3 separate regions of the Homo sapiens genome follow, and all the other regions are linked to region 3. The links come from fine-mapping of genetic effects on gene expression. A gene starts in region 3. Each other region holds a variant in brackets. All regions are shown on one strand. Distances are from middle to middle.

Region 1 (2,759 bases), 35 kb before region 3:
CTAGGATACTTTTTGCCATAATTATTTCCTCTCTCTATCTTTTAGTATCCGGAGATAACATGGCGTCACCTTCAAATTCTTTTGGCATTTCATCAGTTTCTGAGTTTTGTGTTAGGAGATATAGTTCAATTCAAAAGGTACACTGATGAAGCTAATGTAATCAATTATTTTTTTCTATACTACGGAAGATGGAGCTCTTGGAAAAAAAAATGATTTCTAGTTCATTGTCATTTTCTCTTAAGAGTCAAAAGTATCAGTCTGTGAGACTTTTCAGGAGAACTAGATTTGTATGTATACAACAGAGCTTGCCAGACCACTCCATTATAAACAAGACCTTAAAAAGCTATGGAGTGGCCAAGTGTGGTGGCTCATGTCTATGATCCCTAGTAATTTGGGGGGTCAAGGTGGGAAAATCACTTGAGTCCAGGAGTTTGAGACCAGCCTGGGCAACAAGTGAGACCCTATCTATAAAAGAAAAGAGAGAGAGAGATGGCATTAAAAAAAAAAACATTCTTTTGAAACAAGTATATGCATTTCCACATAAATTTCAAATGAAAATGAAATTAAAAACTGTGTCATACCTGGTAAAGTCTGGTGGAACAGGAGTGGTAACAAAAGATGCCATGGGCTTCCGATGAACTTGCTGAAACATCATAAGGATCTCTGAGCTCTTAGATATCAACTCACTCTTACTACAAGACCGCAACTGTGTGAGGAAAAAAATTATCTGAACAAACAAAATTACTATTCACTGCCACCTCAAAATTCTTAAGAAATTACAAATTATTCTGATTATAAACTGAAAAAAATGATAAAAATAACTCAAAGTGAGCTTGAGAATTAAGAATGTACAAAGAATCTAGGTTTATTTCTATAATATTCTAACAGTAAAGTCAATGAATAAGTATACTTAATACTAATGCATTTTTCTCTCCTTACATTTTAGGATAAATGAGGTTTTAAGCAAGTACAAATATACTTTCAGGCTGGTACAGTGAAGTTCTTATGAATGTATTAATGAACAAACCGGTAAGTTGAAAGCTTTTTTTTTTTTTTTTTTTTGAGACAGAGTCTTGCTCTGTTGCCCAGGCTGGAGTGCAATGGCGCGATCTCGGCTCACTGCAACCTCCGCCTCCTGGGTTCAAGCGATTCTCCTGCCTCAGCCTCCTGAATAGCTGGGATTACAGGTGGGTGCCACCATACCCAGGTAATTTTTGTATTTTTTAGTAGAGACAGGGTTTCTCCATGTTGGTCACACTGGTCTTGAACTCCTGACCTCATGATCCACCTGCCTCGGCCTCCCCAAGTGCTGGGATTACATGCGTGAGCCACCGTGCCCGACCAAGGTGAAAGCTTTTAAAAGCAATTTCTCAGATTGTATTCTAGGT[G/A]ACAGAATACAAAACGTACACACATACACCCGTGTGTACACACACACACACGCACTATCTGATACTAATTTGGGAAACACTATTTTGGGAAAAAGTAACAAATCTAACTTCAGTAACATAACCATGGTAGATAAAAGATAAGACTACTAATTTTTTCTTCAAAAAAACCAGTTTGAAGTAACTCCCAATTCTGCCACTGACTAATTACATAACTCTGAGTCTGTTTACATACAAAACTAAAATAGTAATATCCACCACTGCTTACTTCGTGAAGTTTGTTATAAGGATTATGAAGCTATAGTGAAAAAGCTTTGTAAACTATCTGTTATGTGCTGAATTTTGTGCCCCTTTCCTCCATAATTTATATACTGCAGGCTCAACCTCCAGTACCTCAGTCTATCTGGAGATAATCTTTAAAGAGGTGATTATGTTAAAATGAGGCCACTGGGGTAGGGCCTTAATCTAACATGACTGGTGTCCTTATTAAGAGGAAGAGACTCTAGGGCTGCACAACCACACAGAAAAGTCCATGTGAGGACACAGTAAGAAGGCAGTCATCTACAGGCCAAGGAGAGAGACCTCAGAAGAAACGAAACCTGCCAACACCTGAATCTTAGACTTCCAGCCCCTAGAATACTGAGAAAACAAATTTCTATTGTTTAAGTCTCACAGTCATTGGTATTTTGTTATGACAGGCCTAGCAAGCTAATATACTATCAAATGCCATATGAATGATATTCATAAACCCACCTACAGGTGAGTTTATATCTTTTAAATAACAGTTGCTTAAGGCTCACCAAAAATAACATATCATATGGCTGGGCACAATAGCTCACACCTGTAATCCCAGGACTTTGGGAGGCTGAGGCGGGTGGATCACTTAGGGTGAGGAGTTCAAGACCTCATGACCTGGCTAGTTCAAGGCCTGGCCAACATGGTGAAACCCCATCTCTACTAAAAATATAACAATTAGCTGGGCGTGGTGGCACGTGCCTGTAGTCCCAGCTACTCAGGAGGCTGAGGCACAAGAATTGCTTGAACCCAGGAGGCGGAGGTTACAGTGAGCCAAGATCACGCCACTGCACTCCAGCGTGGGCGACAAGGCAAGACTCTGTCTCAAAAAAAAAAAAAAGTATCATATATCATATGATATATATCAAAGTTTATAGTCTTGGGTTACCAAGAATAATGATATCATGTTTGAGCTACTGCATCAACCAATGACATAATGGTAAGTGGTAACAGCAGAAAACAACAAACAGCTGCATATTTTGTCATTCATATTATTATGTGTCAGGCATTGCCCAAGGCATTACGGTTTTTTGAACAATTTATATAAAATGATCTAAAGTTATTTGAACTGTTTGCTTA
Region 2 (2,759 bases), 450 kb before region 3:
CAGCCAGAACAATCTGGTTCCACTAACCCTTTACTATAATTTTGATGAATGCATATGTTAAACATTAAAGAATTGGAGAAACTGGGCCGGGCATGGTGGCTCATGCCTGTAATCCCAGCACTTTGGGAGGCCGAGGCGGGCGGATCACAAGGTCAGGAGATTGAGACCATCCTGTGAATAGTGAAACCCCATCTTTACTAAAAATACAAAAAATTAGCCGGGCATGGTGGCGGGCGCCTGTAGTCCCAGCTACTCGGGAGACTGAGGCGGGAGAATGGCGTGAACCCGGGAGGTGGAGCTTGCAGTGAGCTGAGATTGCACCACTGCACTCCAGCCTGGGCGACAGAGCAAGACTCCATCTCAAAAATAAAAAATAAAAAGAATTGGAGAAACTGGTGCCTGAGTACTACAAGGGCTGGAATGCAAAAACAAACCCATTAAGACACCACCTGGCCTTTCTCAGGCCCTAAAGTCTGATCAAATAATAATAGCATTTTTACACATACACCTTGTACCAAGGACCACTTAAGAAACTTTCCAAGACTCTAGAGAAAGCTTTCCAGACCCTAGATCCTAGTTAAAGATTAGATATAGATTGAATGAAACACTCCACCTTGTAGGTGCACTCCCGCTTATAGGCATGGACCTTGAATGTATAGAAGCTTTGGAAAAAAAAAAACAACTTGTAACTTTTTTTTTTTTTTTTTTGGAGACAGAGTCTTGCTTTGTTGCCCAGGCTGCAGTGTAGTGGCACGATCTCAGCTCACTGCAATCTCCACCTCCTGGGTTCAAACGATTCTCAGACCTCAGGCTCCCAAGTAGTTGGGATTACAGGTGCCCACCATCATTACCAGCTAATTTTTGTATTTTTAATAGAGTTGGAGTTTCACCATGTTGGCCAGGGTGGTCTCAAACTTCTGACCTCAGGTGATCTGCCCACCTTGGCCTCCCAAAGTGCTGGGATTACAGAAGTGAGCCACCGCACCTGGCCAATAAACTCCCTTCTTTCCCAGTCTGGATCTCATTATTGGACTGTGAGAACAAGAAGCTGGACCTCATTCTGTCCTAGAACACCCTGACATTTCGGCACCCCAAAATGTGCTGGGATTATAGGCGTGAGTCACCGCGCCTGGCCAAAACTTTTAACTTTTTTAGTTGGTCTGCTGAGTTACTCCAACCTTCTCCCTGTAACCAGTTGCAGAAATAAACTCCCTTCTTTTTTTTTTTTTTTTTTCCTGAGACAGAGTCTTGCTCTGTTGCCCAGGCTGAAGTGCAGTGGTGAGAATGGCTGAAGTGCAGCCATTCTCCTGCCTCCGCTTCCTGGGTAGCTGGGATTACAGGCGCCTGCCACCACATCCAGCTAATTTTTTCTTTTTTTTCTTTTTGAGGAATCTCACTCTGTCACCAGGCTGGGCTGGAGTGCAGGGGCGCAATCTCAGCTCACCACAACCTCCGCCTCCCGGGTTCAAGCGATTCTCCTGCCTCAGCCTCCCGAGTAGCTAGGCCTACAGGCACGCACCACAATGCCCAGCTAATTTTTGCATTTTTAGTAAAGATGGGTTCTCACCATGTTGGCCAGGATGGTCTCGATCT[A/C]TTGACCTCATGATGCACCCGCCTCTGCCTCCCAAAGTGCTGGGATTACAGGCAGAAGCCACCGCACCCGGCGACTAATGTTTGTATTTTTAGTAGAGATGGGGTTTCATAATGTTGGCCAAGCTGGTCTCAAACTCCTGACCTCAGGTGATCCGCCTGCCTTGGCCTCCCAAAGTGCTGGGATTACAGAAGTGAGCCACCGCACCTGGCCAATAAACTCCCTTCTTTCCCAGTCTGGATCTCATTATTGGACTGTGAGAACAAAAAGCTGGACCTCATTCTGTCCTGGAACAGAATGTCAGAACCCTGACATTTCGGCACCCCGAGACGAGCCCTCCTTTAAGCCAGGGGCCATGTCTGGCACCTCCCTTGTAGGCAGGGGCATTGCCAACCTTAGGCGCATAAGCTGGCTTGCAGCAGAGAAATGGTTTCTGATTCCGGAAGATGTCTCTGATGATTATTCCCAAGCATAATCCATATTCCCTTTCCCTTCTCCTGATCTGTTGGCCTCCTCAGAGGCCCTGTAAACTCTTTGAGGGTCCTGTTAAAGGGCACTGTTTTGGGGAAGTACTCCTGGGCCCTTTGGGTCTCAGTTCAGAAACCTGGTTTTGGTTGGGCGCGATGGCTCACACCTGTAATCCTAGCACTTTGAGAGGCCGAAGTGGGTGGATCATCTGAGGTCACGAGTTTGAGACCAGCCTGGGCAACACGGCGAAATGCTGTCTCTACAAAAAGTACGAAAATTAGCTGGGCAGCCGGGCACAGTGGCTTACGCCTGTAATCCCAACGCTTTGGGAGGCCAAGGCGGGTGGATCACATGAGGTCAGGAGTTCAAGACCAGCTTGACTGATACGGTGAAACCCCCATCTGTACTAAAAATACAAAAATTAGCCGGATGTGGTGGCGGGCGCCTGTAGTCCCAGCTACTCAGGAGGCTGAGACAGGACAACTGCTTGAACCTGGGAGGTGGAGGTTGCAGTGAGCCGAGATCATGCCACTGCACTCCAGCCTGGGCAACAGAGCAAGACTCTGTCTCAAAAAAACAAAACAAAACAAAAACCAAAAGGCTGGGCACAGTGGCTCATGCCTGTAATCCCAACAATTTGGGAGGGTGAGGCAGGTGGATCATGAGGTCGGGAGTTCGAGACCAGCCTGACCAACATGGT
Region 3 (2,759 bases):
GAATTAAACCCTCCTAAAACCAAGATAAGTTTACAAAACCTTTATAATACTTTATATGAGGAATTAAGGAGAAAATTACTCATTAATCTCATCATGACTCTGTAGGGCCAGAAAGAACCTGGGAGATGCAGATTCTGTAACCTGCAACGGGGTGGACAATAAGACTACTGAATGACTAGTTTCAAGTGGAATATCCATAACATAGTTACCCCTTACTAAAAAGCAAGGATTTCCTATTTCAGTATCTGAAAGGTTCAAAATTTGATAATGATTACACAATTATGTTCAATAAACAATCTTTTAAAATATATTCCTAGCCTTTACTTACATATCCTACATATCCCAACTATTTTAACTCACAGCTTACAAGAATCAGTTATAAAAAGAAGAGTTTGTTCTGGAAACTACACATGAGATAATATATGCTGATTCAATCTAGGAAGGAAGGGCAGAAGCCTGCAAAATGTGCCACTGAGAGGGAAAGATGACTATCCATTTGGAAGGAGATTTAGATCAGCTCAAGAACTCGCAAGGACTGGTGGCGAGTGGCAGGGTACATCCATCTGATGAATCTGCAGTTTTGGTCGGAAAAGGATGCTGTTTGCAAACACCCGGTGGGGATGAGTACCTGTGCCAAGACATCCTTGAAAACTCCAGGATACGCACCACCTGACTGCGGAACAGTGAGCACAAGACACCCGGAGCGCTGCAGAATGGGCACGGCATCCTTGGTACCGGGCCAGCCCTCTCCACAGCGGCAGGGGCGGGGTAGGGGTGCCCTACTGGAGGGAGGACATGGGCACGACTCCCCGAATAAAAACCGCTCATCGGGTGGGGGCGGGGACTAACCACCACCCTCACAACCCCCTCACCTCCACGCTCTGTTCATCCATTGCCTCCGGCTCTCGGCGGGGCCGCTGGCGACCCGCAGGCTCCGCAGTCTGACCTCTTAGGCGCCGGCCCGAGGTCGCCAGATCAAATCGCCGATAAAAGCCCGGCGCCCACGTCAGGGGGCTCTGACAACCGCCCCACCTGCGCGCCCCATCTCTTCAGGTCCAGCGCCGCCTACCCCCATTTCGCCATTTTTACCGGCGCGCCCGCCCCGAGGCGCAGAAGTAGGGCGAACGGTGGCCGCAGCTCCTTTCTCCCGGCTCAGCCGCCGGCCAGCAGCCGCGCCGGAACCTCGGCCCACGTGACGCGGGCGCGCGCCTATGGAACTGACGGTGGAGTTCAGCGAAGAAGGTGCCGCAGAGAATTCGCAAACACCAACCGTAACCAGAGCAGCTGGGGGCGCGGCGGCGAGAGAAGCTGCGAAGCGCATGCGCGCAGGACGCTGTGGGAGGGGAAAGGAGGGGAGGAGCGTGGAGCGATCGCCTAGTTCCCGCGTTGCGGGGCGCATACGAGACTTGGCGACTCGCTGCCTCAGGGTTGCGTGCCTCCGGCCCTAGCCTGCGCAGGCGGCCTGAGCTTGGGGCTCTGCTACGCCACCCACGCCCACCTTGGCGGAGGGCGGGGCCCCACGGCTCTCAAACTTGCGCGCCAAAGACGGAGCCACCTGGCGTACTGGTGGAAAGCGCAGACTTCAGAGCCACACCCGTAGTTAAGTATTCGGACTCTGAGATTCCAGGGTGGGGCCCAGGCCATCCGCGTTTTCACCCAGCATCGTGTGATTCGGCAGCAGGTGGTCTGTGGCCCGCACTTTGAGAAACCCTGGTGCAGAAGGTTCATGGTTAGTGGTTCTCTCTGGAAGGAACAGTCTAAGGTTTGTAGGACTTGCGTTCCACCTACCAAAGCTAATCGAGTTAGAAGGCTCCAAACTGAGGTGTCATTTCTCATTACGGTGGTGAGAGGACGGGACCACACACTGTGAAGTCTTCGTTCCCACATCCCACACTTCATTCTTGCCGCCTAAGTTGTCGCCGTGGGACTATTGAAAGGGTATCAGCGATATTCATCTTTCCTATAAATGGGATCTGCTTTCTACAGTTTCCTGCCAGATGTGTAAAGATTGCAAGAATTGAAGGTTTGTGAGACAAAGAGGGCATATCAAATTCGTAATTTGAATTTAATTTTTCCTGTATTTATTGCAAACAACTAATTATACTTAACCGACCTAGAGTGCACATGTAGAGAATCACTAATAATCTAGAAATAAGTTCTTGAATATCAGGCATTTAGGCTTATAGGTGGTGGGTAGCAACAATTTTTTTTAACTACTTGGGTCATGAACAAGATATAATTTAGAAAGATTAATCTGAGACTGAAAAATTCTTTCAGTAAGAATTATTTGTGGTCTTTGACCTACATGGAGCTATTTTTACGAAAATGGCCTCAGTTGTACATTTTTAAATGGTTGATGGTTAATATTATGAGAATTTTACTTAAAAGAATTATTTATAGAATGCAGTGCTAGGCCTGGCGTGGTGGCTCACACCTGTAATCCCAGCACTTTGGGAGGCCGAGGCTGGCGAATCACCTGAGGTCGGGAGTTCGAGACCAGCCTGACCAACATGGAGAAACCCCGTCTCTACTAAAAATACAAAATTAGCCGGGCGTGGTGGCGCATGCCTGTAATCCCAGCTACTGGGGAGGCTGAGGCAGAAGAATCGCTCGAACCCAGGAGGCGGAGGTTGCGGTGAGCCGAGATCGCGCCATTGCACTCCAACCTGGGCAACAAGAGTGAAACTCCGTCTCAAAAAAAAAAAAAAAAAAAATGCAATGCTGTACTTGGGATTCAGAGTAATGAGAAGTGGCCCTTG

Alleles and levels. Alleles are on the strand shown, and positions count from the first base shown. SD is a standard deviation of normalised expression in the study named.
In carriers of allele A in region 1, the expression in Th17 cells of the gene that starts at base 1,312 in region 3 tends to be higher than with G alone (large effect, 0.94 SD a copy in Schmiedel 2018).
As copies of C replace A in region 2, the expression in lymphoblastoid cells of the gene that starts at base 1,312 in region 3 goes up (small effect, 0.37 SD a copy in GEUVADIS).

The links. PIP is the estimated chance that this variant, and not a neighbour inherited with it, causes the effect. A credible set is the group of variants that fine-mapping cannot tell apart.
Region 1: its variant is the best candidate, but not a certain one, in a credible set for the expression of TRIM37 in Th17 cells (Schmiedel 2018, PIP 0.51).
Region 2: its variant is the best candidate, but not a certain one, in a credible set for the expression of TRIM37 in lymphoblastoid cells (GEUVADIS, PIP 0.59).

The regions. Positions count from the first base shown.
Region 1 is chr17:59,070,242-59,073,000 of GRCh38, forward strand. It overlaps TRIM37 (tripartite motif containing 37), which reads right to left. Exons shown (of 24, transcript NM_015294.6): 9 at 582-706. Among named protein-coding and RNA genes, the nearest start is that of TRIM37, 35 kb to the right of the region's middle. The variant G/A (reference allele first, on the strand shown) is at 1,389.
Region 2 is chr17:58,653,816-58,656,574 of GRCh38, forward strand. The region is part of intron 1 of TEX14 (testis expressed 14, intercellular bridge forming factor); the gene reads right to left. Among named protein-coding and RNA genes, the nearest start is that of IGBP1C, 37 kb to the right of the region's middle. The variant A/C (reference allele first, on the strand shown) is at 1,594.
Region 3 is chr17:59,105,569-59,108,327 of GRCh38, forward strand. It overlaps TRIM37 (tripartite motif containing 37), which reads right to left and starts at 1,312. Exons shown (of 24, transcript NM_015294.6): 1 at 873-1,312. The coding sequence starts at 893. It overlaps LOC124904039 (a long non-coding RNA gene), which reads left to right and starts at 1,528. Exons shown (of 2, transcript XR_007065864.1): 1 at 1,528-2,023. RefSeq lists enhancers at 400-1,059, 716-765, 976-1,105, 1,060-1,719, 1,196-1,295 and 2 more and a silencer at 1,426-1,535.